Homo sapiens: one gene and its partner. The protein of the gene in region 2 interacts with the protein of the main gene of each other region in a biochemical or structural test. Each region holds a gene or a part of one and is shown on either strand. Other genes may lie near its edges. The genes, in order: ATF7IP and MBD1.

What was found.
Region 1: the proteins of MBD1 (region 2) and ATF7IP form a complex in vitro, tested with the Homo sapiens proteins (2 studies listed by BioGRID).

Annotation. Positions count from the first base shown.
Region 1 is NC_000012.12:14,486,591-14,501,681, forward strand, and holds part of ATF7IP (activating transcription factor 7-interacting protein 1), read left to right. Parts: intron 1-9,640; coding exon 9,641-9,753; intron 9,754-11,063; coding exon 11,064-11,483; 3' UTR 11,484-15,091. UniProt on the Homo sapiens protein: Recruiter that couples transcriptional factors to general transcription apparatus and thereby modulates transcription regulation and chromatin formation. Can both act as an activator or a repressor depending on the context.
Region 2 is NC_000018.10:50,271,524-50,286,614, forward strand, and holds the start of MBD1 (methyl-CpG-binding domain protein 1), read right to left. Parts: upstream 10,001-15,091; 5' UTR 9,840-10,000; exon of another isoform or gene 9,694-9,839; coding exon of another isoform or gene 9,641-9,693; intron 8,495-9,640; coding exon of another isoform or gene 8,470-8,494; coding exon 8,360-8,469; exon of another isoform or gene 8,353-8,359; intron 5,682-8,352; coding exon 5,567-5,681; intron 5,476-5,566; coding exon 5,309-5,475; intron 5,222-5,308; coding exon 5,139-5,221; intron 4,896-5,138; coding exon 4,855-4,895; intron 4,459-4,854; coding exon 4,312-4,458; intron 4,206-4,311; coding exon 4,077-4,205; intron 3,922-4,076; coding exon of another isoform or gene 3,847-3,921; intron 3,723-3,846; coding exon 3,606-3,722; intron 3,523-3,605; coding exon 3,454-3,522; intron 2,831-3,453; coding exon 2,663-2,830; intron 2,341-2,662; coding exon 2,041-2,340; intron 1,949-2,040; coding exon 1,811-1,948; intron 1,433-1,810; coding exon 1,301-1,432; intron 1,216-1,300; coding exon 1,154-1,215; intron 18-1,153; coding exon 1-17. Other genes in the region: CXXC1 (CXXC-type zinc finger protein 1), read right to left, coding at 11,070-11,216, 11,331-11,483, 11,742-11,838, 11,992-12,041, 12,182-12,292, 12,371-12,578, 12,855-13,039, 13,197-13,316 and 5 more. UniProt on the Homo sapiens protein: Transcriptional repressor that binds CpG islands in promoters where the DNA is methylated at position 5 of cytosine within CpG dinucleotides. Binding is abolished by the presence of 7-mG that is produced by DNA damage by methylmethanesulfonate (MMS).

The DNA of each region.
Region 1 (15,091 bases), on a different chromosome or scaffold from region 2:
ATTAAGTAGGAATGCAGTAGGCTTCCTATCAGTTTCATCTCTAGGAACACTGTGATTAATTATCCAATGCTAGAGCTCTATACAAGTCGGACTCTTCTAACTGCCACTTTGCCTCTGCTGTCCATTACGGTAGCTACGCCCACCTTGCCTTTGACAGTTGAGTGCCACCACTTGGCCCCTGCCAACTTAGGATCCAGTTATTTCCATTGTATTTAAATTTTGTAGTTCAGTGACTAAGGTTCCCACCGTTAGATCTGACATACAGAGACGAGCAATTAGAGGGCTCTTCAAAGATACAAGTGCTGCCCTCACAAATCTGTTTCGCAAGGCATTGGTCAAGGGTATATCTTCTGGACCCTCCCAGCTGGGATGACTAGCTCTAAAGTGACTGATTCACTCTACCATCCCAATCTCCTTAGTCTTTGGATCCCTTCCTCTACATTAACCAAGGGAGATAAATCATTTCCAGCTCACTCACAGTGTGCCATCTTTTAATCCTTATTTCAACTAACCAAGCAAATAATCTATTAGAACCTTTTTTTTTAACTCCCTGAGCTGCAACATTAAATGCAGAGTCCCTACTTAGTGGGCCCAAATCAAGAAATTCAGCCTGATCCAACTTTGTTCCTTCCATCATAATCTTATACCCTTAATATCCATCCCCATGCCTGTTCTCTAGGTTTCTGTTTATGTAAATTAGAGAACTCAAAACAGTTCTCTGAGTGTAGCATACCTCCTTATAGGTCACACCTTCAACCTCACCTCTAGGGGCCCACCAGTACTTTAGTGTAGTTATACATCTAGAAGCAAAGAGAGGTGTTTGGAGGGGCTCCTGAGAAGAGTCAACATTGTCTTACCTGGCAACTGCCTCAGAGGAGGCCATCACTGTTGCCTCACATATCACAGGCTTTATTTCCTCAGACAAAGTTGGAAAGACTGATGGCAGCATGGATCAGGGAGGGTACGTTGCCCTCACTGGGTGTAGGGAAGCTGTTCCAATCAATACCCTCACTTTAACTGTAGACACCTGGTGAGTCTGGTACATGCCTCTTTTGTTGTAGGTTAGCCAATTGTATGATAAGAGCTTGTGTCTGTTTTTCTACAATTTCAGCTCTTTCTCTATAGGAGATAACTGTCTCTCACTCAAGGCAGTCTTAGCAGATTTCAGGCTCAGTATTTGCTTCAGAAGCCAGGAGACAGAATCCCTGAGTTCATCATTTTCTTTTATCACTTTGTCCACTGAACTTAGGAGGAACCGACCAGTTTCATTATGTTCCTTGGTTCTCCACATATGGTCCAAGGTATCGTGTATAGAGTCCCTAAACTCCTTGCTTCTCACAAGTGGTGATTCAGGAGTGTCAAATGCATTTATTTTGCATAACTCTCTAAACAGTTCATGCCAGGTACTATCAGTGTTCTTTATACTACTAGAAGTAGAGTCCTTAGCATTTGTGGGTCTAATCATATTAAGCAGCCAACTCCAGAAACCCCAAAATCAATGAAAGAACTCCATCCTTAATATTCGGTTCTTCTAGACCCCCAATCCTGGTACCAAAATCTGAATTAGGGTTCTCTAAAGGGACAGAACTAATAAGATGGACACACACACATGCACACACACACGTATCCTATAAATTTGTAGATATAGTATATTTTTATATATATCTATAGTATAAAGAGTAGTTTATGAAATATTAACACGATCACAAGATCCCACAATAGTCTATCTGCAAGCTTAGGAGCAAGGAAAGCTAGTCTGACACCCAAAAACAGAGGAACTTGGAGGCCGATGTTTCAGGGTAGGAAGCATCCAGCACAGGAAAAAGATGTAGGCTGGGAGGCTAAGGCTAAGCCTGTCTCTCCTTTTCACGTTTTTCTGCCTGCTTTATATTTGTTGGCAGCTGATTAGATTGTGCCCAGCAGATGAAGGGTGGATCTGCCTTCCCCAGCCCACTGACTCAAATGTTAATCTCTTTTGGCAACACCCTCACAGACACACGCAGGATTAATACTTTGTGTCCTTCAATCCAATCAAGTGACATTTAGTATTAACCATCACAAGTCTACCGCTTGTCAACCTGAACCCATATACATCTCCTAATATCATACGCAGCCTTCAAATAAAGAGGGTAATAAGGCCATACTTATGCCTAACATAATACAATTATCCTTTGTACAACCAGAAGCGCACCAATCCCCAAGCCAAATACTATTACATAAAGTTAACAATACTTAAATGTTGATAGGAAGTCAATAAATCTTATGTCACATGATGAAGGAAAAGGAAATAAAGACATTTTGTTTGTACAAGTGCATACATGCACAAACATGTTTTTAGCAAAAGAAGGAGGAAATACTCATGACAATTACAGTCCCCATTTCTGCAACTGGTCACATGGTAGTAGCTGGTATTGATGACTACCTTTTTCTACTACCCATTCTGTATTCTCTTTGCCTTCAGCAAGCACCTCATCTGGTAGTGGTTTTACTCCTGGTGGAGTGACCCCATCCTTCATTCCTGAGGGGTCTGGGCCATTTTTAGTGCTGCCTAGATTGGGCTGTTATAGTTTCCTGTTGACCTCAATCACAGGGCATGGTAATACTAACAGACGCCTTAATGGATCTCCTGTATTCCATGTATACTCTTCCTTACCTCCATTGTGGAACAGTAGACTGATTTCTTCTTGGCAGTCCGGGACAGTCACCACAGCCAACACTAACTCCCTTGTTAGCCTGTTGACTTAAAGGTAGGAGGATCCCAAAGTATCCAGGTGGCAATCTTAAGTTCCAGTTTAATGGAATCATTTTGTCTCCTGGTGTGAGCGTTCCTCCCTCTGGAACTAAGACCTCTAGGCCAGCAGAACGTAATGTCGCAGGAACAGGAAGCAAAAATTTTGCAAGTGGATCCCTAGGGGTGAAGGTGAGTGGTACCACTTCCACTTCCACCCTCTGATTCGTGGACCCATGAATCCTGGCTATGGGAGAAACAGCACCATATATTGGACGCTGATTCAGAGCATACATGGCCTTCTGGAGAATTTTGCCCCAGACTTGCAAAGTATTGTCACCTAGTTGGCATTGTAATTGTGACTTCAAAAGGCCATTCCACCGTTCTGTAAATCCAGCTGCTTCAGGACAATGGGGAACATGGTAAGACCAGTGAATTCCATGAGCATGAGCCCACTGCTGCACTTACTCAGCCGTACAGTGAGTGCCTTGGTTAGAGTCAATGTTGTGTGGAATACCATGGCATTCTGTGAGTCCATGGATAGTAGTCTTGGCAGAAGCATTGTGTGCAGCATAGGCAAACCCATATCTTGAGTATATGTCTATTCCAGGGAGGAGAAACCTCTTCCCTTTCCATGATGGAAGAGGTCCAATATAATTAACCTGCCACCAGGTAGCTAGCTGATCACCCCGAGGAATGGCATGCCCGAGCGAGGGCTCAGTGTTGGTCTCTTCTGCTGGCAAATTGGGTACTCGGCATTAGCCATAGTCACGTCAGCCTTGGTAAGTGGAAGTCCATGTTGCTGAGCCCAGGCATCACCTCCATTACTGCCACCATGGCTACTATGTTCATGAGCCCATTGGGCGATGACACGGGTGGCTGCGGATAGAGGCCGAATGGTGTCCACAGAACGGGTCATCCTATGGACTTGATTATTAATATCCTCCTCTGCTGAGGTTACCCATTGGTGAGCATTCACAGGGGATACAAATGCCTTCACAGTTTTTGACCACTTAAAGAGGTCCATGCCCAGAGCTCTTCCCCAAATTTCTTTGTCACCAATTTTGTAATGATGCTTCTTCCAAGTCCCTGACCATCCAACCAAACCATTGGCTACAGCTCATGAATCTATATAATCACACATCTAGCCATTTCTCTTTCTAAGCAAAGCACACAGCCTGATGCACTGCTCCAAGTTCTGCCCACTGAGAAGATGTTCCTTCACTGCTGTTCTTCAGGGATGTCCTAGAAAGGGACTGTAGTGCTGCAGCTGTGTACTTGCCGGTGGTGCCTGCATATGGTGCAGAACCATCTGTGAACCAGGACCTAGTCTTAATCTTCCACTGTCAAGTGATCACAGGGACTCCCCATGAGGCCATTGGTGCAGGCTGGGGAAGACAAGGCAGGGTGTCAGAGGGGAGACACGGGCATTTGAGCCACTCCTCATGTAAATTACTTCTGCCGTCCGCACCTGCTCGAACCCAATCACATATATACCACTTCCATTTGATTATGGAATGCTGCTGTGCATGACCCACTTTATGGCTAAGTGGGTCAGAAAGCACCCAGTTCATGATGGTCATCTCAGGTGACTTGATGACCCATAGTCAAATGTTCAGTTTCCACCAAAGCCCCTTTAACAGGCCAAGAGCTGTCTCTCAAAAGGAGAGTAGTTACCTGCAAAAGATGACAGGGCTTTGCTCCAAAGTCCTGGAGGCCTCCACCGTGATTCACCTATGGGGTCCTGCCAAAGGCTCTGACAGCATCCCTCTCTGCCCCTCACACCTCAAGCACCATTGAATCTGCTGGGTCCTATGGTCCAAGTGGCAGAACAGCTTGCCCAGTAGCACGGACCTGCTGCAGAGCCTTCTCCTGTTCTGGACCACACTCAAAACTGGCAGCCTTTCAGGTCACTTGATAAATGGGCTGGAGTAACACACCCACATGAGGAATGTGTTGCCTCCAACATCCAAATAGGTCCACTAGACGTTGTGCTTATTTCTTGGTTATAGAAAGGGCCAAAGGCAGCAACTAGTCTTTCACCTTAACAGGAATGTGTTGACAGGCCCCACATCACTGGACCCCTAGAAATTTTACTGAGGTAGAAGATCCCTGAATTTGGTCAGATTTATTTCCCATCCTCTGGCACACAAATCTCTCACCAATAAGTCCAGTGTTTTTGCTACTTCTTGCTCACTTGATCAATCAGAATAATGTCATCAACGTAATGGAGCAGTGTGGTATCTTGCAGGAGCAAAAAGTGATCAAGGTCTCTCTGAATAAGATTATGACACAAAGCTGGAGAGTTGATACACCCCTGAGGTAAGACAGTAAAGGTATGTTGCTGTCTTTGCCCACTGAAGGCAAATTGCTTCTGGTGGGCCTTATGGACAGAAATGGAGAAAAAGGATTTGTCAAGTCAATGGCTGCACACCAGGTACTAGGAGATGTGTTAATTTTCTCAAGGAGTGAAACCACATCTGGTACAGCAGCTGCAGTTAGAGTCACCACTTGATTAAGCTTACAGTAATCCACTGCCATTCTCCATGATCCATCTGTCTTCTGCATAGGCCACATGGGAGAATTGAATGGGGATGTGGTGGCAAGCACCGCCCCTGCATCTTTCACGTCCTTGATGGTGGCACTAATCTCAGTACCTCCAGGTATGGGATATAGTTTTTGATTTACTACTTTTTAGAGGCAGCTCTAATGGCTTCCATTTGACCTTTCCCACCATAGTAGCCCTCACCTTACCAGTCAAGGAGCCAATGTGGTGGTTCTGCCAGCTGCTAAGTATGTCGATGCCAATTATGCATTTTGGCACTGGGGAAATGACCACAGGATGAATCCAGGAATCCACTGGATCCACTGTAAGTCAGACCTGAGACAAAATTCCATTAATTATCTGACCTCCATAAGCCTGTACTTTAACTGGAGGACCACAATGATGCTTTGGGTCTCCTGGGATCAGTGTAAGCTCAGAACCAGTGTCCAGTAGTCCCTGAAATGTCTGATCGTTTCCTTTTCCGCAATGCACAGTTACCCTGGTAAAAGGCCAGAGATCTCCTTGGGGAAGGATGGGAGAAAGATTCACTGCATAAATTGTCAGGAATGTAGTGGGGTCTTTCCTCAAGGGGACGAGGCCTCCCCTTCATTCAAGGGGTTCTTGGTCTGTAAACTGGCTCAAGTCTGGAAATTGATTGAGGGGTCATCATTCTGTTTTTATTATTCAATTTAGTCTTTTGTCCATTTGACCTAGAAGCTTTCTGGTTGTATAAGTAGGAATGCAGTAGGCTTCCTATCAGTTTCATCTTTAGGAATATTGTGATTAATTAGCCAATGCCAGAGATCTATACAAGTCAGACTCTTCTGATTGCCACTTTGCCTCTGCTGTCCATTATGGTAGCTATGCCCACATTGCCTTTGACAGTTGAGTGCCACCACTTGGCCCCTGCCAACTTAGGATCCAGTTATTTCCATTGTATTTAAATTTTGTAGTTGAGTGACTGCAGTTCCCGCTGTTAGATCTGACATATAGAGTCGAGCAATTAGAGGGCTCTTCAGAGATTCAGGTGCTGCCCTCACAAATCTGTTTCGCAAGGCATTGGTCAAGGGTATATCTTCTGGACCCTCGCAGCTGGGATGACTAGCTCTAAAGTGACTGATTCACTCTACCATCCCAATCTCCTTAGTCTTTGGATCCCTTCCTCTACATTAACCAAGGGAGATAAATCATTTCCAGCTCTCTCACAGTGTGCCATCTTTTAATCCTTATTTCAACTAACCAAGCAAATAACCTACTAGAACCTTTTTTAACTCCCTGAGCTGCAACATTAAATGCAGAGTCCCTACTTAGTGGGCCCAAATCAAGAAATTCAGCCTGATCCAACTTTGTTCCTTCCACCATAATCTCATACCCTTAATATCCATCCCCATGCCTGTTCTTCAGATTTCTGTATATTTGAATTAAAGAACTCAAAACAGTTCTCTGAGTGTAGCATACCTCCTTATAGGTCACACCTTCAACCTCACCTCTAGGGGCCCACCAGTACTTTAGTGTAGTTATACATCTAGAAGCAAAGAGAGGTGTTTGGAGTGGCTCCTGAGAAGAATCAACATTGTCTTGCATGGCAACTGCCTCAGGGGAAGCCATCACTCTTGCCTCACATATCACAGGCTTTATTTCTTCAGACAAAGTTGGAAAGGCTGATGGCAGCATGGGTCAGGGAGTGGATGTTGCCACTACTGGGGATGGGGAAGCTGTTCTTTCTGGCAAAAAAGCTTCATCAGAATTTACAAACTCAGTGTCCCCAGCTTCATCAGGGTGCTTCTACACACCCCCATTCCAAGTTTCAGGGTCCCATTCTTTTCCAGTCAGTGCCCTCCCTTTAACAGTAGACACCTGGCAAGGCTGTGCATGTATCTTTCATTGCAGGTCAGACACTCGCATGATAAGAGCTTGTGTCTGTTTTTCCACAACTTCAGCGCTCTCTCTACAGGAGATAAGACTCTCATTCAGGGCAATCTTAGCAGTTTTGAGCCTCAGTATCTTCTTCTGAGGCTGAGAGACAGAATCCTTGAGTTCATCATTTTCTTTCATCACTTTTTCCACTGCACTTAGGAGCAACTGACCAGCTTCATTATGTTCCTTGGTTCTCCACATATGGTCCAAGGTATTATGTATAGAGTCACTAAACTCCTTGCTTCCCACAAGCAGTGAATCAGGAGTGTCAAATGCATTTATTTTGCATAACCCTCTAAACAGTTCACACCAGGGACTATCAGTGTTCTCTATACTATTAGAATTAGAGTTTTTAACATTTTTGGGTCTAATCACATTAAGCAGCCAACTCCAGAAACCCCAAAACCAATGAAAGAACTCCATCCTTAATATTCTGTTCCTCTGGACCCCATTCCTGGTACCAAAATCTGAATTAGGGTTCTCTAGGGGGACAGAGCTAATAGAATATATATATATATATATATATATATATATATATATATATATATATATATGTGTGTGTGTATATGTATATATACACATATGTTTCCTATATATAGTATTCATATAATATATACTATATATAAACTAATAGGATATATATATTTTATATATTATATATGTATTAAACTAATAGGGTATATACATAAAATATATACTACATATAAACTAATTGTATATATACTTTATATCCTACTATATATATACAGTATATCTTAATTATATATAAATATTAAATATATGTAAAATACTTTATATATAGTGAATGTTTATATATATAAAGGGGAGTTTATTAAGTATTAATTTACATAATCAGAAGTTCCCACAATAGACTGGGCATGGTAGCTCACGCCTGTAATCCCAGCAGTATGGGAGGCCAAGGCAGGCAGATCACTTGAGGTCAGGAGTTCGAGATGAGCCTGGCCAACATCGTGAAACCTCATCCCTACCAAAAATACAAAAATTGGCTGGGTGTGGTGGCACAAGCCTGTAATCTCACCTACTTGGGAGGCTGAGGCAGGAGAATCTCTTGAGCCCAGGAGGCGGAGGTTGCAGTGAGCCGAGATCATGCCACTGCACTCCAGCCTGGGCAACAGAGCCAGACTCTGTCTCAAAAAAAAAAAAAAAAAAAAAAAGATCCCACAGTAGGCTGTCTGCAAGCTGAGGAGCAAGGAAGCCAGTCTGAGTCCCAAAACTGAAGAACTTGGAGGCCAATGTTCCAGGGCAGGAAGCATCCAGCACAGGAAAAAGATGTAGGCTGGGAGGCTAAGGCTAAGCCTGTCTCTCCTTTTCACGTTTTTCTGCCTGCTTTATATTTTCTGGCAGCTGATTAGATTGTGCCCACCAGATGAAGGGTGGATCTGCCTTCCCCAGTCCACTGACTCAAATGTTAATCTCTTTTGGCAACATCCTCACAGGCCCACCCAGGGTTAATACTTTGTGTCCTTCAATCTAATCAAGTTGACACTCAGTATTAACCATCACACATATGTTGTAGTTTTGCAAAATGTGACAGCAAGGGAAAATATAGCTATTTAAAGAAACACAGTAATGCTATCATTTAGAAAATAAACTGATTGGAGTCCCTGGATCATAGCTTGGCTTCAACTCTCTCAAGTTTACAAGAGCGTTGTCTGGGAAAATTAATCAACAAGGTTAGAAATGAGTTCTGGGAAACTTGGCTCACTATAGTCCAGGAACCAGGCCGAACTACAGCATGGGCCAGGTACTGAATAAATGGCAGGAATATAGTTAGGGCAGTAGGTGGCTCTAAATTTTCTCTTTTTGTTTCCCTGGTGTATGTCACAGCAGTTTTCTGTGGGGTGAAGTGAGTATCCTCAACCAAGGAGCTGGGCATGGAGAAAATGAGAGGAACCTCATTAATACATGGCAAGGATGACTTATTCTGGCTTTCTGTCCTGGTTGAAAAGATGAGACTGCAGAGATTTTTATGAAGATACTCCCAGTTTGTCTGTCTTTTGAGTCACACTGCTCCATTATGGCCATTTACCTTTTACATGTGGTACACAACCAGTGTTCTAGGATTTTTGTTCATAGTTCTCCTGGTAACGATCCATTTATTTCTCCCTGTGCTGGACCTCCTGTTGCTTGTGTCTCGTGTTTTTCTCTTTATTTTCTCACGTACTGGTGGCACATATTCTCCATTGACTATTTGAGAAAGGGTTTGTGGTAGTTAGAATTTTTTTTTAGTGCTTGCATGTAAGAAAGTTTTTTTATCCACAGGCTGATTGATAGCTTGGCTGAATACGAACAGGACCTCTAGGTTAGAAATATCTTTCCTTTCGAATCTTGAAAACATTGCTTCACTGCCTTCAAATATTTAATCAGTTTTCCACCAAATTTACAATAGAATTATCATTTTATCCTGTAATTTTTTTGTTTGTTTGTAGGTGTTACAGTTCGAGTGCCTCAAACAACCACATATGTTGTAAACAATGGACTAACCCTGGGATCAACAGGACCTCAGCTCACAGTGCATCACCGACCACCACAAGTGCATACTGTAAGTGTTGATGCTTGGTTTTGCAAAATTCTCAACTGTAGAGGTATAAAATATTATTGTATTTGGCATTTTTCTTTAAAATGGTTATATCCAAGGGAAGTGTTAGGTCTTCCTGCTTTTTCAGAAGTTTATTTCTAAAAATTGATCTTACCATTATGAACACATAGTTCCTAGGGATGATGATCATTTAGAATCATTGAGTTTGCTTGTGGTGTACAGTGTACAAAAACAGGTCCACAGTTGGGGTATATGAAGTGAAATATAGACCATTTCTAATTCATAGTTAAATTAAAAAGGACATTTTTCATTTCTCCATGTGTTAATTTTATTCTTTCGTTCTAAACTATGCCACATCTAACTGCTACATTGTCATCAATTAATTGTTCTAAAGAATCCAATGATATTGGGAATTCATTAGTTAAGAGGTAACAGAGATAACCAAAGATTTCTCCTTAGATTTAGCCTCCAAAACAATGTCACATTATCCTGTGACACAATTTTGTCAGTGTTTGACTGGTATGAAATATCATTATAATGATGATGATGTTCCAGTGTTAGAAAAGTCAATAGGACTTCCTAAAGTTAGAGTCATGTTTTTTCATCATCTGGCCTTAACCTACCTTTCCAGATTTTTCTTCATGTACCCTATGTCCAAGAAAAAGTTAATACTTGTTCTTGTCCATACGTCCCCTCACTTTACTGTCCACATGCCTTTGCTCATGCTTTATTTTTGGCTGAAAGGTACATGATTATTTCTGCATCTCTGGATCCTCCTTCACAGTTGAGTTTAAATATCACCTTTTTCTTGTAAATTGGCCAAGAATATAGTACACATTTAGTGTTAATGTGCTTATTTATAAATAACTTAAAAATGAAAGTATATTTGTATTCTCCAATTTTATATGATCTTGGTTGCCATACATGATATTTAAAAATGTTACATCATACTGAAATGATAATCTGTAACATAGATAATTCAATCATAAATTATTTTGTTAGAAATAGATCATTACTTCCGTGTTCCTCAAAATGATGTTCCGTCAGCAGGGGCTTTTTATTTCCTAAGAAAAACTCAAAATATTTTAGGTCTAGGAAGTATAGTAGGAATAACCTCAGCATCATTGTTTGTAGCATGATTCATTACAAAACCCCAAATAGAACTTGCCAAATTTGATATGGTATTTGGTATTTCCTAGAATTCTTGATATAAAATGATACTTCTACGTATGTTCTCTAAGGTGTTTTAATTCTAACATTCTAAAATAGTTCTTTTTGCAATCATCATTAATCAGTGTGACCTGTTTCTTCAGGAGCCCCCACGCCCCGTGCACCCAGCACCCTTACCAGAAGCTCCACAACCACAGCGTCTGCCCCCAGAAGCTGCCAGCACATCTCTGCCTCAGAAGCCACACTTGAAGTTAGCACGCGTTCAGAGTCAAAATGGCATAGTACTGTCATGGAGTGTCCTGGAGGTGGATCGAAGCTGTGCCACTGTTGATAGCTACCATCTCTATGCTTACCATGAGGAACCCAGTGCCACTGTGCCCTCACAATGGAAAAAGATTGGGGAAGTCAAGGCACTTCCCTTGCCCATGGCATGTACTCTCACCCAGTTTGTATCTGGTAGCAAATACTACTTTGCAGTACGAGCCAAGGATATTTATGGACGTTTTGGGCCTTTCTGTGATCCTCAGTCAACAGATGTGATCTCTTCTACCCAGAGCAGTTAAACCTTGGAGCCTTTATATTTTCCTCTTTTAAAATTTCCACCTTTTGGTCTTGTTTTTAATCTTGTGCATGATACCCCATGTAAAATCCACCTTGTGCAAGATTTCTTGGACAGATGTGTGTATACACTACATTTGTTTATAACCAGAAGCAAAATAAACTCAGCCCACAAAGCTAGAATCTTTTCCTGGACAGTTTAGGCTTTGGGGTTTGGAAATGTAAATGTGTACCTTGCTTTAGTTTTGAGGCTGGGGAATATGTGTGGGTGTTTATGTGTGTTTTTCCTTATGTAGGTGTTATTGCATTGGAGTCTCCCATTTTCATTCTCAAATTTACCTCTTAAAGTACGAAGTAAGTAGATCAAAGGATTTGAGATGTGTAACTGGCATGATTCTGCTTTTGAAGGATCTATAGTATCATTTTAGTTAAGTGGGTCAAACAGAATCAAAACAAAACCCAAAGAAATAAATAAAAAACAAAATGGCTAAATAGTTTAAAATAGGTTAATTCGAACACAGGAAAGGATCTATTTGTTGTTTCTTTTGTCTGGTCTCCTGAGTTGTTAATTAGGTGAAAAAAGATCTGCAATGGCCCCCTCCCTTTCCTAATCTGGCTTTTACATTTATTTTGTGCCTTAAAGATTAACTACAAAGATAAACATGGCCAAAAATAAATAAATAAATATGGCCATATGTCCGTTGTTGCTTAGTCTTCCCTTGCAGCCTTTTACCCTTGATTTCTCCTTCATCTCTACCAAATATAGCACAACTCCTCAAGTAATTTTTTTTTTTTAAGATGGAGTTTTGCTCTTGTTGCCCAGGCTAGAGTGCGGTGGCACAATCTTGGCTCACTGCAACCTCTGCCTCCTGGGTTCAAGCAATTCTTCTGTCTCAGCCCCAGAGTAGCTGGGATTACAGGCACCTGTCACCATGCCCGGCTAATTTTTGTATTTTTAGTAGAGATGGGGTTTCACCATGTTGGCCAGGCTGGTCTTGAACTCCTGACCTCAGGTGATCCACCCGCCTCGGCCTCCCAGAGTGCTGCGATTACAGTTGTGAGCCACTGTATCCAGCCTACTCAAGTGATTTTTAAACCAAGGTGTGTGTATGTACATGGATGTGTATGTACACACACACACAGGTGCATGCATAGTCTCATCTTAGCCGGGCATGGTGGCGACAATCACATTTAACTCCAAAAATTTGACGTGCTATTTTCTTCTAAAACTATAGATGCTTTTATTTTTGGTCACTATTTAACTTTGTGTAAAGTGGACCAAGAGAAAACCATATTGTGGAAGACAGTTTTTCACACATTTTAGTATCCGTGTTGCACACTGTGTTAGAGATTATGAAAACCATTCTAGTTCAGTTTATCACCCAAAGCTATCACCCAACACTAACTCCTTAGTATTCTTTCAAAGGAAGCAAATAGTAAGATTACAATATAGAATGAGCTAAAATATCAAGGGGAAAGCTTCATTTCCTCTTTATTCTCTTTATCGTCCTTCCCATTTTAACCTTTTAACTTTGTTTTGATGGTGCCAAGTTGAGTCTGATGTACCCATTGTTAGCTTTGGATAGAATTTAAAGTATATCCCAGAATTAGCTGGGCATGTTGGTGCATGCCTGTAATCCCAGCTACTCAGGAGGCAAGGCTGGAGAATCGCTTGAACCCGGGAGGCGGAGGTTGCAGTGAGCTGAGATTGCGCCATTGCACTCCATCCTGGGAGACAAGAGCGAAACTCTGCCTCAAAAAAAAAAGAATTTAAAGTATATCCTTTGAGGTCATTTTATGTAACAATTAGATATAACCTCCTGTGTATCTCTCTGTTCCTCTTCAAAGTTATTAAAATTCAGCTTAGGTCATGGATTTTTAATATGAGGGCCAGCTGTACTGGTGTCAGGTAGGTGTTTTGGGTGTAGATAATTTAGGACTGGAGGGCTGAGTTAAGTTTTAGGAGGAGAATGTGGTTGAGAATATTTTGAAAGGAATTTATGGAGTTTGTGAAATAACTTCGAAGTCCTCTTCCTTTACAATATTTGAATTCATATTTGTACCTTCTCAAAATAGTGATTCATTTTTCCTAGAATTACAGGAGGGAGCTCTTTTACTAATGTTGTTTTGTTTGCAACTTTGATGGCTTATAATAGGAAGTATTCTAGTTGTAAAGAAAACTCTTTAGAGACTTTTGACTGGTCAGTATACTGAGGTGTGAGATTTGATTCATGATGAAGAAAGCCTATAGATTGCCAAAAAATTAATTCTCCAAACCACCTTTCACTCTCAGAAAATGAGACCACAAAGGAGTATGCTATAAATCAAATTTGCCAACCAATTATGTAGATATTACTCATTCTAGGACTAATGATGATGGTAAAGAAGTTGCCAGTGTTATGGCAATGAAAATTTCAGAAAGGAGGAGTTGATGATCTTCTAGATGTATATGAACACCTGTCTATATCTGCATGTATATGTTTTGACCTGCAGTGGTTGCAATGTTGATATGTGTTCAAGATTATTCCTGTCTACAAAACTGAAGGCCCATGTTCAAATTGTTCTTTATTGGGTGTTTTTATGGTCACGTGGTAACAATTTTCTTACCTAACCTACAAAAGGTTCTCTTGATGAACATTTTTATTTATATTTACTAATCTTTTTTAAAAAAAGCTTTCATAGCATTATATAATCAGATGAAGAAAGCCCAGTAGAATAAAAAAAAAATTCATTAGCCTAGCCTATATTATGTTTTCTGTCAAAGGAAAACAAATTCTCAAATAGGAATTCTAAAAATATTTACTAAAGTAAAATAACTACTTAAAATGTTTTATTCCAGTTGGAAGGAAGGTACAGGGAGAAATCGCAATTATTTAGGGGAGAAGTATATTTATTATAAGATGGTGTCCTCAAATTAGCCTACCATGGCACGTAGGGGCAGCAGCTATATTAGATTTACTAGAGGTGCTAAGTTAGAACACTAGGCTTTTATTGAGGCAGGTTTTAATATTGATAGATGCTTTTTGTTTGGTTTGTTTCTTCTGGGAGAGAATGGAGGACTTAAGTAGAAGTAGCTACTGATAACAGACTTTCTAGTAGCAGTTTCCACTCCACGGTTACCTTTTTAGTTTCATAGTATCTTTTCACAAAGTATTACAAATAAGCTAGATTCTCCCAGTTTGGGAATGCAAGTTTGCTACATTTTTAGCCTGGCAATATTTGTGTAGGTATTGCCTTATTGGAAATTCTGGAAACCTGATACTGCAACCTGCAATGTAGGATGTTTGTATGGCATTTAAAGGTAATGGTGATGTTTATTATTCTATACTTTGCATTCTGTGAGAGTAATTTTCACTCTGTCTTAAGTGTGAGTAAGCCTCTTCTAAAAATCTTGTTCTTGCCAAGAAATTTATAAATCACATACGAAGACGTCTGTTGCTAACAGTTAACTTTATGAGGTAACTATATCCTTCTATTTCTCTGGACTCATTTTTAAAAAATATGCCGAATACTGCATACTGTTTAAGGTAGTATATAAGTTTATGAGAGAAGTGGAGAGCTTTCTTCCTTGAAAAGTCGGTATTTGTTGAGATACCATTTGCCTCACAGAGAG
Region 2 (15,091 bases):
TTTTAAGGTCTTTGGACCTAGGGAAAAGGGAGCAGGTCTGTATGTTGAATGAGGTTTGCTATGTGCGCAATGGAGCATTACAAAACCATTTCCTACTATTCTGTGTCCTCCATCCACTTCCCCTTAATTATCCTTTATCTTTTTTTATATCTTCTAAAAACTACCATTATAGACAGCTTGTACATAGTCAGATTATAAGCTCCCTGAAGGTAGGTATCCTGTGTCTCCTGAAGGGTAAGCTTTGCAGGGCTCATTGTCCTCAATGCTGTGCACCCAACAGGAACTCAATCAATACTTCTGTAATTGGCCAAGTATAGATGAAAGGGTTTCTAGCCTGGTGGGCTGGTTTGTAGGAGCAAAGGAATCCAAGTGCTTAGGCCAATAGTTTACATCGCCAGTGTCTGGGGCTCTATGCAGGGTCTGTCAATATTCTGCAGGAGCCAGCACTCCTCTGTCCTCCCAACCACCCTAGTCCTTACAGGCATCTACCCTTTGTTCTATGCCAGGACTACAGGGACAGTTCTGCAAGGCATCTGAAGTTAATAACCTCAATAGGCTCAGGAAAGGCTCAAGAGATCCAGCCCAAGCCCTTCCACAGAGGCCGCTCCAGGAAGTGCAGGGCAACCAGAGATCACACAACTACGTGTGAACCCAGCTCACAAAGCCAGCTCGGAACCCAGATCTCCTGCCCATACCACTGCCCAGGCAAGCCCAGCACCATTTCTCTGGTACACATTGCTCAATGTCAGGCAACAGCCCACCCAGAGGTCTCCTGGAGACTCTAAAGGCCTTCAAGACCCAAATGATTATTCTCTGAATAAGAATTTATATATTAAAGCTGACCCCTATAGAAATTCCTTAGGAAAATAGGGACCAGACTCCCTATCTTTTTCTTTCAAATCTCATGATAGAGTACCAAGTCTTTCCCCTACCCCCAAAGGAGAGTCCTAACCTGGAATGCTATTGGGCTGGATCTCAGGAGAAATCTCTAGGGTCCTACACACACGCCCCTCATTAATTGTGACCAGCATAGTGGGTATGGGCCTTTACCTCCCACCACACCATGCCAAACTGCCGGCTATACTTTCAAAACTCAGGGCCCACATCTGGCCAACACCCACTCCTTCCCCACCCCTCACTGTGTGGGGCACACCTTGGCAACCAGACTGCTGTATCTCGGAAGCGGGTTCCACCCAGGCTGAAAATCTCCGTGATCTAGAGAAGAATTAACACCATAGGTCAATGTGGTTGTTGGGGCTACAGCAGGGTCAGGGCAGGGTGGGGCATCCCCAGCACTGACCACGGGTGTGCCAGCCCCTCCTGCCTCTTCCTCTGGGGCCAATTTGGAGGCAGAATCATCCTTGTTCTCCTCCTTGTCCTCCTCTGGGTCAGGTGGCTCTTGCTTCACAGAAGGCAGGCCTGGGTCTACTGCCTGGGAGAAGTAGGAAACAGGCAACCATTAGAAGGGCAGAGTTCACCTGAGGAAAGTCTCTATCAGCCAACCCCTCACTGTGCTGACAAATCCTACTTCCATCACATTTCAACACAGAAAGTCCATCTCTCTGCCTACAAAGCTTTCCCATTCCCATTCCTCACTGACCTCCGTTTTTCTGTTAGCTGGATAGCAAAGCGGGCAAAGCTAGTTGCCTGTGGGAGGTAGGGTGTCTGTTAGACAGGCGGGGTAATTCTGCAGAAACGTCGCAATCAGCACATCTATTGCTCTGCTCAAGAGAACCATCATGGCTCATCATCACTCTGCTTACAGACCACTCCGCTACGGCACCAACAGAACATCCATCACTGCCCCCACCTTGCTAGGGCAGCCAGGCACCAATACGGGAGAAGTCAGGACAGCTGTGCCTGGTGTCCACTCGTCCTGGGTATCCGCCTTCTCTTGCTTCACCTGGGGTAAGGCCACAACCCAACTCAGGCCAGAGCACTGGGCCTCCTGCGTGAGGGAGGATTGCAGCAGACTTGGTCTCAGCTCCCTGGCATGCAGCTGGGTGAGGCTGGGAAGGCAGGACAGGGTGGGGCCCTCACCTGCAACAGGGCTTCTGTGGAAGCTGCAACAGGGCCCGGCACCTGCACAGGACTGCTTGCGCCTTCCCGTAAAAACACAAGGTCAGTGCCAGGCGGGGGCAGCACAAAGCCACCACCTGCTTCCTGCTTCGTTGGAGCCTGGGTATGGTCTGGTTGGGCTGTGCGTGTAGCCAAGGTGGGCTTCAAGGTAGGGCCAAGATGGTGCCGTCGGGCAGAGCTGGGCCTCTTTCGACGACGGTAAGGTGGGGGCGATCCTGCCCCATCCTCAGACTCTGACCAGACACTGGGCAGCAGCCGCTTCTATGGGGAAAGATAGGGTGCTATGGCTACCTGGTGTCCTGACCAATCACATCCACCCTGCCCGGCTCCACATGCCTGCTAATCTCCCATCAGTCCCAGCACGGAATCTGCTTACATATGAGCCCTTCATCACTGAGCCTGCTAGTCTCCTATTAGCAACACCAATGCCACCTAGACTCATTAAGCCAAGAACAATGTCTGTTAATCCTCAACCAAAGCTACTGCCCCACCCACCCACCTACCAAGCCTGCCCACCACTTCCAGGCACTGGGGCGCCTGGCCCAACCTATCCCGTCCACCTGACCCTTCCTGCCCCACCCACCATGGCAAACTGCAGGCATTGGCGCCAACGACACTTCTGGCGCTTCTGGTTGCTGCCCCCGAATTTGGGCTTGTCGCAGCAGAAGTCGCAGCGGCCACAGTCCATCCGCCGTAGGCAGGCTGCACAGGCCCCGCACTTGCGGTTCTGCCGGCGGTTCGTGTAGGGCTGCTGGGGTGGGGGGAATGGGTGGTGCTGTCAACTAGGACTAGGAGAGGCCATCCTCAACGCCTATTCCAGTGCTGGTCCTGGTGCTCCTCTAGCCCCATAAGACGGAGCTACTTGCATACTAGTCTCAGCCTCCTGACTCCCCACTAGTCACTCCTCAGCATTCGCTAGTTCAACATTGGCCACTATCACTGTGCCAGCTGGCCCTCGATACCATTAGGACTGTGGCTGCTCCACTACAGTATCCACTGCTGTATTTCCTAGGCCACCACTAGCTACCAAGAAAATGTCTCTGACCCCCATTTCCAGCAACATTTTGATAACTCTCTATTAGCTCCCATCACTGTGCCTACTCTGTCGCTCATCCTAGGTGAACCCCAGTCACTATGCTAGCTGCTCCTCTGTCAATCCCCACATCAGCTACCAGAGTGTTGGTATATGTGACATGAAGCACTCTCATGCACCTGCTGACCCCGTATTAGTCCTCCATTATCTACTCATCCCATCCTAGGACCCATTATTGTGCCTTGCTGTTCCCCAATAGGCTCATTCCAGCATCTGCTTCTTTGAAGTTAACCAAGCGTCCTGAGATTCTAGGCTTATCCAGGTAGGGTGGGGCCACTCACTAGCTCGTCCTCGTCTACACAGTAATAGATGAACTCGGCAGGTGGCGAGGGGGCCAGGGCTCTGGGGTGCTGTAGAGGCAAATGGGGTGGGGTCAGGGCAGGTACTGGGTAAGGTCAGGGTTGTGCCTTCCCTCCACCCACTGGGGCCTCACCGGCTCTGTGGGCTCTGGGGACTGTGATGGGGGTGGTGGAGGCAGTGGCTGGGCTCCGGGGCGCCGCCTGGCAGCCATCTTGGAGTCACAGCCTCCCTTGCGGCGGGCATGTTTACCCTGGGAAAGATCAGAAAGGGTGGTTTCAGCTTGGTGGCACCAGGCAGACACAGAAACTCCCCACACCCTAAGTGCAGAAAGCATGCATGGGACAGGCAGACAGAGGGTGGCGTGAGGCACTCACAGTTGGGGGAGCCACAGCCAGGGGAGTGCGTCGCTGACATCTCTGATGACGGCGACGCAGGCGGTGAGCAAGGTGCTGGCAGACAGAGGCAGGTAGGCGGGGCCAGAAAGGCGAGCATAGGGTTAGGCAGAAAAGAAAGACATGAGGTAGGCAAGGCCAGGTTGAAAGGAAGCAGAGGCAGCGACGATTTTAACAGCAGAATGAGCTCTGCTCCCTCCAGCCCAACTCACCCGTAGGCAACGTCGCTGGACACATTTCCACTGGCGCCTGAGACCAGGGCGGGGAGGGCGAAGGCAGATGGGGCAATGGCCACAATCCTCTTGGGTCTGACAGCCCCGGCATACTCCACACCCTCGGCTCTGTTGGCGGGGGGCAGGTGGGAGCAGAGGCATGAAGCATGGGGCCAAGCCCATGGGGGCCAGGGGCCGAGGTGAGCCTTGGGCTCTTTCCACTTGCCCAACTCACCCTTTCCACAATCCGGAGGCAGCGTCTCCGTTCACACTTGCAGAACAGCCCCGATGCCACATCATGGGGCAGCTGCAGGAGGCAGGTGGAGCAGGCCCCACAGTCTTCTGTTACCTGGCAGGCTGCACACTCCCCACAGCCCACACGCTGCCAGGAATGGTAGGGACGAGATCACGGGCCTGCTCCAGAAGCACTGGTCCTCCCATGTCTACTGACCCTACATCAGCTGGCATCACCATGAATTTTAGTCCCCCATTAGCCTCATCACCGTATCTGAGAAGGTCTGGTTAGTCACCATCACTGAGGCCATTAGTATGTCTACTGGTCCCCTGTTCACTTCATCACTGTGTCTACTGATGCACTAATGGTAATGGGGATTAATTACCCCATTAATTCCCATTATTGTGTCTGCTGACCTATGGAGAGCACCCTATAAAATGACTCTTCATCCTGTGGACCCATCATCATCCCTTCAGACTCTACCAGCTCCATCACATCCTGCTCCCACTGCAGAGTTGTGAAGAGGAAGCAGGTTGTGCTTACCTTAAACATTCTCTGTTCCCGGTTGAAGGCAATTCTCTGTGCTGTGGGGAGGAAGAGGGAAGAAGAAAAGTGGAAAGGAAGCAACAGACATCTGACTTCACTCACTGCCTGTGCCCTGACTTCCACTATTCAACCTCTACCTATGCCTGCTATCTCCAATATCCAACCTCCAACCATGCCAGTAGCCTCTGTCCTGACATCCACATTCAAACCCCAGCCTAGCATGACACTGGACCTGCTCCAGCTCCTATCTCCCGATGCCCCATCCTCTGGAGGCCACTCACCTCGACAGTCTTTGCACAACGTTTTGAGCCGCTGCCTTTGGGTGCCATCCCCTGAGAAGCTGATTCCACAGTTCTCACAGCACCTGGGATGGGAAAGGCAGGTGTGGGGCTCCAAGAGCACCCCCAATCACAACCCTCACCCATCTGGCTCACCTTAGACCAACACTCACCCAGGAGCAGGGAATGAAGCTGGGGCTGTGTCAGTGTCAGCCTTGGTCTCATCCCTCGGGGCCTCCTTCCTGACCTCACCACTCTGGGGTCCAACCTGACGTTTCCGAGTCTTGGCTGGCCTTGAAGGCTTCTTTCGCTTCTTGCTGGCAACCGCCACGGGATGGGCCTGGAAAGTAAGGGAAGGAGGAATATGGGTCAGTGGTTGGGTGTTGGGTGGCACATCCACCCCTACCTAGGTATCTCATGTTGTGAAGTACCTTGGGGGCTGGATAGCACAAGATGCCTTGTTTGAAGTCGAAGAGGGTGAGATCACACGCAGGGCCCAGGTATCGAGTCAGCTCAACTTTGCTTCGGATCCTGTCTCCTGTGGGGCTAGGGATGGGCCATGATGGGTTAGCACCCAGGTGGAGCCAATGCCATTTCACTCATACAACCTTTTGACAGGGCTGGCAGGATATAGGAGGCAGCCTGGAATTGGCTTGTGAGCCCTGCCCAGCCCCCACCTCAACTAACCTTGAAAACATAAAAAAATTAATATAAATACCAACACATATAGAAACATTAGAAACAATATAAATGTAAACAGATGAACATATTTACAACATATAATACTAGTAATACTGGAACTATTTCATGTAAGTAAAAATAAACACAAATAGGAACACAAATATATTATATTTGTGTTATATATATATAACACAAATATAACATATAAATGTTAGCATTATGTACCAAGTATATATCAAGTAAAGAAAACACAAATATGTTTTAAAAACATATAAACAAATGCAACTACATACAAATTAAAGTATAAGTAATTGATTTTGGGACCCCCATGGGTTTCTTGCATTTTTGTATGCCCTGCAAGAGAGACAACGATTGTCCTTTTTGATAAACTATCTTTCCAAGGATGTTTGTAAAGCAAACAACCTTGGAAGATAAGAGATAGGGTCTCCTTCCATAGGAGGAAGGGAAAGTATACTTTTTCCAAAGGGAAAGCATACTTACTGTCTTAATATTATTTAAAAAAAACCTGATTCTCTAAGCTCACGGTTCTTTTCCTATAATAATACAACCCTCTTCACGTCATGCTGTAGGAATTGGGATTCAGAAACTGGCACAAAAATAGTAATACAGTAATTCCCCCTCTCGTGCAGGGGATACATCCCAAGTTCCCCAGTGGATGCCTGAAACCGTGGATAGTACCAAACCCTAATGTAATATGTACTGTGTTTTTTCTATCTGATAACTGAGATGGTTACTGTGTGACTAACAGGCAGGTTGTGTCTAGAACATGGATATGGATACGGATATGGACAAAGAGATGATTCACCTCTTGAGCAGGACTGAGCGGGATGGTGTGAGATTTCATCACGCTACTCAAAACGGCACACAATTCAAAACTAATGAATTGTTTATTTCTAAAATTTTCCATTTAATATTTTTGGATGGTGGTTGACTGTAGGTAACTAAAGCTGTGGAAAATGAAATTGCAGATAAGGGGGAGACTACTGTATTCTGGATCCTGCAACTGTTGTAATAAACTGTCTTTGATCTGTAACCCAGGAGTCTTACCCCTCCTACCAGCATCTACAAAATTCTGACAAATTCACTATTATCTTGTCCTAAGAATGAAATCTCAGGTTCTTTATAGTTCTTGACAACTGCACTTTTAAGTTTTGAAAGTTTTATACAAGTACATAAATATGTGAATAAATTATAACTAAATATAAACAAAAAGTAATTTGTAATTTGATATTTACCTGGAAAGATAGCAACTTAGATTTAAAAAATCAGAAAGAATATAGAAACTTAATAATGTTTCTTAAACACATGTAAATGCTTATAAACATCTATGTTGACTCTCATTAGTTATGGTAGTTACGTTCTACAAAGCTATCATGAACATTGAATACAAAACCATTGCTCCTAGAAGAAATACAGGGTTAGGTTCCTGAGAGCATCTGAACTTTTGTTTTGTGTGTGTTTCTGTTTAAACACACATTACTTAATACATATTTTTTTTTACAAATGATTATTTGCATGGTCTTTGAATGACTCAAACCAGGGGACTTGGAGGCCGTATGTGTTATGTAAGGTTTTTTGCCAATATTCTTGTTTAACAAGCCAATCTCATTGACATTGAAAACCACTCTTCCACACAACCCCTTTCCTGTACAACACTTAACAGGTATTTTTAAAATTCTTCGGAAGACTCCTGATCAGCAGAACCTGCATTGCATGCAGGTTTAACATGTTTCATGCCATGTCGCCTTTTGAAATGTGCAAGTCAGCCAGCACTAGCTGATATAACCTTAATATTTTCCTAACCCAGGGTAACATGACTTTGGCTTTCCTCAACAATGCTGTCAACTATGCTTTATTGATCGTCATTTCATGAACCCACCAATGTAGCTGCTTTCTCATCTCTTACATAGCTTCAAGACTATAAATGCTTTCTGTACTTTCTGAAGCAGCTTTGTGCACATATTGGCAAATTTCCTTCTTTTTCTGGTTGTACCATAATTCTGATGCATAACATTGAACTTACAGCCAACAGCATTGTAACTCAGATAACCAGCAAAGTTTATCTGCCTTGTATTTTCTCCATAAAGCACGACATAGTCTTCTCACAGAACACTAAACAGCACCTCAGCACTATGCTTGGGGACCATTTTAAAAAGCAAAATCACCAAAAAGTACAAAAATTAGAAAAATGTGACACTAAACAGACCACGAAAAGGACACCTGTTTACAGTATTAAAGCTGAAAAGGGCTCCTTCAGCCTCAGCTAGAAATACATGCATTGAGTGACAGTTTTTCACTGCTCTGTACGTATTCTTGAATAATCACAAATGCACTGTGAGTAGTGACTTTTAAGTTACAAATAAATTTTATTAAGTAGGTGAAATTCAAACATAAAATCCGCTAATAAGGATTAACTGTATGTGCATAATTTAAACTTCATCCATAAATTTAACCACACCATTTGATTTTACCAGAATCAGGCTCTACCCCACTCCTGACTCTGCCCACTACCCACCCAGTACCTCTGGTAATAGGTGTCTGAGCGTCCACAGGTGGCCCCTGACTTGCGAAAGACTTCGCGGCGCTTCCAGCCAGGGCCCAGGGCCGGGCAGTCCAGCCAGTCCTCAGCCATGGAGGCCACAGGAAGCAGCAGTAGCCTGAAAGGGGGTGGAAGGGATGAGGGAAACTGAGGCTCTAGGAAGGGACAACACTGTGCCCCAGGCCACACAAATCACTGGTATCCATTAGTGCTTGCCCAAGCCCTAGGACCTGCCACAGGCAACCAGCCCATATATGGAAAAGAAACCCCTCATATTCTCACCCCATTCTTTCCTATTCTGGGCCTAGGATATCATCATTCCTCAACCCAAGGATCCCTGTTTCTTATTCTCAGTGTCCTAATCCCCTACTCCTCTCTATCCTCAGACTGACAACCCATCATTTCTCCTCACTGCCAATCCAGAAACTTTTCATCCTTCCCCCTCATTCCTCCCTGTCACTGACCTAAGGGCCTCTATCCCTCTATTTTATCACCCCAAGACCCCCATAGTCCCCATCCTCAGCCCCAAAGGGCCCCATTTCTCTTGCCCTCACTACTTGACTTCAGTAGTCTCTCATTCCCCCCTTCCTTGACCCAGGAGTTCCTAATTTCCCTCCTTCAGTGTTTTAACCACTCCATTCCTTCTCTGCCTGATGTCCTCTTATCCTGCTACCTCAGTGTTACAACCTCGACTTCCTCTGCGAGACACAACTGCTCCAACCCATAGCCTGAACAGCCCCTCATCTTTTCCATTCCTCACACTGGAAGCCTCCCATGCCTCCCCTTCCTCAGCCCAAGACCTCCCCCCTTATTTTTCTTCTCCTTCAATGTTCTCACCCACAATTTCTCCCTAGTCTGAGCTCCCAAACCTTCCTCTACAGCCAAAAAGTTCCCCACTTCTCCTCCTTACTGTTCTCATCCTCCATTCCTCCCTTATCATCCAGAGAGACCCTAATTTCTCCCCTCAGCATTCCGAACCCTCCTCCATTCTCTCTGTTCTTGTCCCGGGATCATGCCATCCCTAACTGTCACCATTCTGATCCCCTACTGCTCCTCGTCCTCTATATGGGGCCTCCTATTCCTCCCTTTCAGCATTCCAAAGCCTCTATTTCTCCTGTCATCAGCCTGAGGGCCCCTCATTTCTCCCTCTCAGAGTTCTGAACCCCCATTTCTCTCTCAACTTCAGATGCCCCGATGTCTCCCTTTAGCGTTCTGATCTCCACCATTCCTCTCCGTCCTCGTCCCAGGATCCCGACACTCCTACCTGTCAGAGTTCAGAGCTGCATTCCTTCCCGTCCTCAGCCTAAATCCCCCCATTTCTCCTCGTCAGTATTCCGACGCCGCCATTCCTCCCCCTTATCGGCCTGAGGGCCCTTCATTCCTCCCCGTCAGCGTTCTGAGCCACAATTCCTTCCCATCCTCCGCCTGAGCGCTCTCCACGTCCAGCCCCAAGGCTGTCTCACCAGTTTGGCACCAGGCCGGTATCTTCCGCCACTCTAGGCCCGTGGACCCATGGCGAGGGTCCCTCCTGCACCTCCCGCCTCGCCCTCCTCCCCTTCCTCCTCCTCCGCGGCCGCCTCCTCTGAAGCGGTAGCTGTCGCCTCCGCGGCTGTTCGTTGCTCCCGGAACCGGAAGTCCGCTGCCTGCCTCTCGGGCTCCGCCTCTGGCTAAGCACCTGCGCACTATTGCCTCGATGTCGCGTGCCCTTAATAGGGAGGCTCCCGCGCCTACGGGCCGGCGCTCCGCAGCGGTGCGCGCGCCCCCCTGCCGAGAGCCAGTTGCATCTGCGTGCTGACGTTCAACGACAGCTAACCCCTTCGAGGGACTGGCAGTTGCGGCTCTCCTCGCTGCCCATCTAGCTGGCGCATGCGCTTTCCAGCCTCAACCTGAAGGGAAGCGGTCGGGGAGGGCTTGCGCCTGCGCCCTCCCTTCCCTCCCGCGGTCTCCACAGCCGATACCGAACGCGGCAAGGAAGCTGCTTCGCGCCTGCGCACTCCCTGGCCCTGCCGGCGCTCTCCTCTCCCACCTCTCGCTGGGGTCTATCCTGTGTTCGTGGGTCCCTCCGAACATCAACCCCAGGGGGGGTCGTGTCCCGCTCCCTCCTCCCCGCCGAACAGCTGTGGGAGCGCGCGGGGCGGGGAAAGGGGCGGTGCCACACCGCAGGTAAACTGAGGCACGCGGGAGGGCGCGCCCCTGCAGGAGGCGGATCCCCAACGTGGGGCTTGTGGGGAAAAGGCGGGGCCTGGCGTCCACAGCGGACGACAGCTCTGGGTGGGAGACAGGAGCATGCATGGGCGGTGTCACCACACTGAAGGCGCGCTGCGTAGACCCTCTGCCCGTGGGAGGCTGGGAATGTGGGTCCCTGGGCTCTCGCGGGGTGCAGGCGCCCCCCATCTTATCCAGAAGTCTGGAACAGTTGCAACCGCAGCAATGTGGAGACAGCTTCCTTGGTTTCTTCAAAATTTTATTAACAAAACCCAGGGAGAGGAGGCAAGGATGAGTGGACTCCGCAGCCCCACCAGGCACTGAACATGTCGACGGGGACAGTCCCTCTGATAAAGGCAGATGGGCGGTCAACCGGTGGATGGGCACAGGGAGAACCGGAGAAACAGATGAGTGGAGGAACGGACACACGGGCACCGGGCGGCTCCCCCATCTGGAATGCAGGGTGTAAGGGGTCCGGGCCAGGAGGCTCAGCGGTCGGCACTGGAGCGCAGGTCGGTAGTGAGGGGATCGTGCTGGATCGTCTGGTGCAGCATCAGGGCCAGCAATCCCGCGCGGTTTGTCATGGCTGTGCGCACATTGCGCTCCTGCTCAAACAGCTCGTCCAGCTTGTACCACTGCCAAGGGAGCGGCAGGAGTCCTAAGCAGGAACACCTGCAGCCCCGCCTGCCCCGGCCACGTCCGACATGGAAACCTACCACATGCAGCACCAAAACCGCACAGAAACCTACCACACGCACGCGCTCCAAGTCCACTTCCGCACGCCGCAGCTTCTCCCAGCAGTAATGGCGATTGCACTGGCGCTTGGGCAGGCGGCAGAAGTCACCCGTGAGCTCAAAGACATCACGTACAAGGGGGCACCCGCATACCTCGTCAGCTGGCACCTGCAAGGAGGCCAGGTTGGGGGGATGAATAGCGGTGATAAGGGAGAATAGGAATGGGGGCTCAAGGAGGGAGAAGGAAAAGAATGGAGGGTTCAGGGAACGGTGAGGAGGCATGGAAAAGGAGGAATGGAGGGTGAAGCAGCAGGGAAGCTGAGAGGAAAAAGTGAAGGAAAAGTGAGGTGAGGAAGGAAGGGATGAATGTGGGACAGCGAGGCAGGGAGGAGGGGCAAAATGGGAGGAGCTGAGGGAAAACCTTACTTTGGGGTCCCGTGAGTGCTCGGGGCACAGCACCTGGAGCCGCTTACAGTATGTTTTGCTCTGAGGATTATACACATCACAGAAGAGTCGTGTGGCCCTGGGGATTTGGAGTAGAGAGGGCAGTAGAGGGAGGGAAGGGAGGTCCATCTGTCCTGGCTGGTTGCCCGTATCCTGCCCCAGCTCCACACACATCCCACTTCTGACCCCCGCCTTAACCCCCCACCTCTCACTGCGTGGCACCCTCACTTACCCTTCAATGCGTGTGGGGTACATGGACCCAAAGGACGTCTGGCTCTCATACTGGAGGGATGAGCACAAATGGAGGGAACTGTGGATGTGCGCTGCATGCCCTCCCAAGACACCACCCAGACAACAAATCTGTCCCCCACTGGCCCACTGATGTTCCCACATGGTCCGCCCCCTCAGTCTGACACCCCAACCTTGGCGTAGCAGCGCTCCATGTGGCGCAAGGCAACACGTGGGTTGATGGGGTGCCCACAGGAAACACAGAAGATCTGCAGGTCTGTGTCATCACTGTCACCCTCGTTGCTCTGCATGGAATGGAAGGAACAATAAGGCTGGGAAGGACAAAGTACAGGCCCTGCTCTGCTGCGCCCCTGCTTGCTCACCTCCTCATCCTCGCGCACAGCCTGCTGCTTGGCACGTAGAATGATGGCCTCAAGCTCATGGAATCGGCGTTCCATTTCCTGAAGGCGAGTGCGGGCACTCTGCTGCTCTCGGCGAATGCGTTCGAGCAGCTTCTTGCCGTGCTCTTCAGCAATGCAAGGGCTCTGCTGCCACTGCTGGATGCGCTGGGGGAGGATCTCGTAGATGCGGCTGCAGGGAAGGTAGCAAGCAACAGAATGAGTGAGGTGATCAGTAAGTGAGAATGGCAAAATAGACGCAAATGGCAAAAGGAGAAGTAAATAGGTGACTGGCGGAATGGTGGCTGGATGGACACACGGGCAGGTGGGTGGGTAGGTGGATGGGTGAGTGGGTAGTGGCTGTTTGGTGACTGGTGGATAGCTGATTGACTGGTAGACATACAGAAGGCTGTGGTCAGGCCCTACCATGCACTTCCTGACTCCCTTGAACCTCTCAGGAATGACTCACTTGGCTGCCAGCTTCATGCCACAGTCATCTGAGCAATACTTGGAGCTGGGCTGGGCGGGGCGCACACAGCCGGGCCCCAGGCACTGGGGCAGTGACGCAGGGTCCTTGGCATCAGCCCTCTCTGGGTGTTTCCATTTATCCTTGTGCTTCTGCTTCTGCCGATGCCGCTTGTATCGCTCCTCCTTCTGTTGAGCAAGACAAGTCAGGTCAGGGTGGAGTCAAAGTCAGCCCCAGACCCCAGACCCTTGCTCCATTCTAGCCCTTTCTGGCTCTTGCCCCATTCAGCCTCTGACCTCTGCCTCTCCCTCAACCCCACCCTCTGCCTTTCCACATCCACTTTACCCTCTCCATCACCTTCTTCTCAGACTTCTTCTCCCGACGCTTCACATGCTTCACTTTCACTGCCCTCTTCCGCAGCGCGGGGTCCAGGAATGGGGACTCTTCTGTGTCGCTCATCCAGGGCTGCAAGCAGGGCATGCACTGACCCACCTGCCCCGCTCGTGACAACCCCACCACCTACTCATGTCCCATATCAGCCTTCCATACCCTCTGTCTCCTCATTAGGGATACTCTCTGCTTCTGTAACCTCCACCCTTCCACCAGTGGATGCTCCTGTCTGCTCACCAGGCCATGGTCATCAAAGGCCCCTGCACAGAAGTCCTGATACAGGTCAGGATCCAGAGGTAGGTCCTCATCTGAGAGTGGCTCAGGTGTGGCTGTAGCCTCAGGAGGCTCCTTGACTGTTGATGACGCCACTGCCCCCTCATCTTCACGGATGCGCCCTAACTTCTGTGATGGCTGTGGCTGCTGTTGGGTGGGCAGTGGCCGGCGGGGCCTTGGCAGGGACTCTGAGGGCGTCACTGGTGAGAGCTGCAGGGCAGAATCTCAGGACTGGCCCTGACCGCCCTGCCCGCATGCCCCACCCCACCCTGGGGGGCTGGACTCACCGAGGAAGGGAAGTACTTGTACGATTCCTGTGCCGGCAGGAGGAAGGCCCAGGTCAGCCCCAGGTGGATGGAGGGCGGCCTTGCCCTAGCCCTACCCACCTGGCCTGGCCTTACCTCCCCAGACACACCTCCCCGCTACCCCTCATTGCCAGGAATGCTCAGCCCTGCCTGATCTGTACCAACATGCATGACCACCTGAAAACACCTGGCCCCACTCTGTCTACCCAGGGTTGGTGGGGGTGTTCTGCCAGCCCAGCATACCAGGTCATGCCCCATTCATCTGGACATGACAGGCCCCTTCCCACCTGTCAGGATACAGTCAGGCCCAATCCCACCTGGTTTATCCATGCCTAGACTTAACTAACCATGCATGGACCCACCAGCTCTCCCACACCTGACCCTACCCAGCTCTGTCCATGCTCACCCGGGCCCGCAGCTGGCACTGGCGCAGCCGGCACTTCTGCCGGATCTTGTTGGGGCCCCCGAACTTCTTCATGTCCCGACAGAAATCACAGTGACCACAGTCCTCAGTGCGCCGACATGCCTCACACTCACCACACATGCGGGCTGACCGTTTGATCTGCTGCTGCTGCTGCTGGTGATGCTGCAGGAGGGGGCCCAGAACAGAAATCATGGACCCAGGCAGGGCTGAAACGGAACCACTTTACACATCCATTCACTTTATGCAGCCACTCACCTGGCTGGGTGTGGCCACCAAGGGCTGCGGAGAGGATTTGTGGGGCGAAGCAGAGCCCCGAGCAAGCATGGCCCCAACCCCTGTCCCTGACCCTGCCCGGCGCTGCAGGTCTGGATCAGGGACAGGCCTCTTGCGCCCTCCACCCTCATCCCGGGGCTCACTGCTGTCCCGCTCATTGCCATCCCGCTCCCGTGACTTCTTGTGCCGATAGCGAATCTCTAGCTTGGGGTCTTTCTCTGTGGGGCAGAGAGTAGGGCCAAAGTGAGTGAGCACTGGATGGCTTGAATGGTCCCAAAACCTCTTTCTTCCTCTTCGCTCCCTTACTGACCCACCCACCTACTCTGCACCCCTGTCCAGGGCAGAGCTGCCTCTTCCCGTGGGATCTTCTATTACTCACAATGGAGCCCCATTCCAGCTCACCACAGACGTGTATCACTAATCCCCATAACCCCCCCTTGTGGCTCCTCCTCCTCCCTTGAAGCCCCACCTGCCTTCCCTGTCCATCCATGGCCCTCACCTCTGCACTCCCGACAGTACCACTCCCGGATGGCCTTGGCCATCTTCTCAGTGATCCGGATGCAGTCCCCATGGAA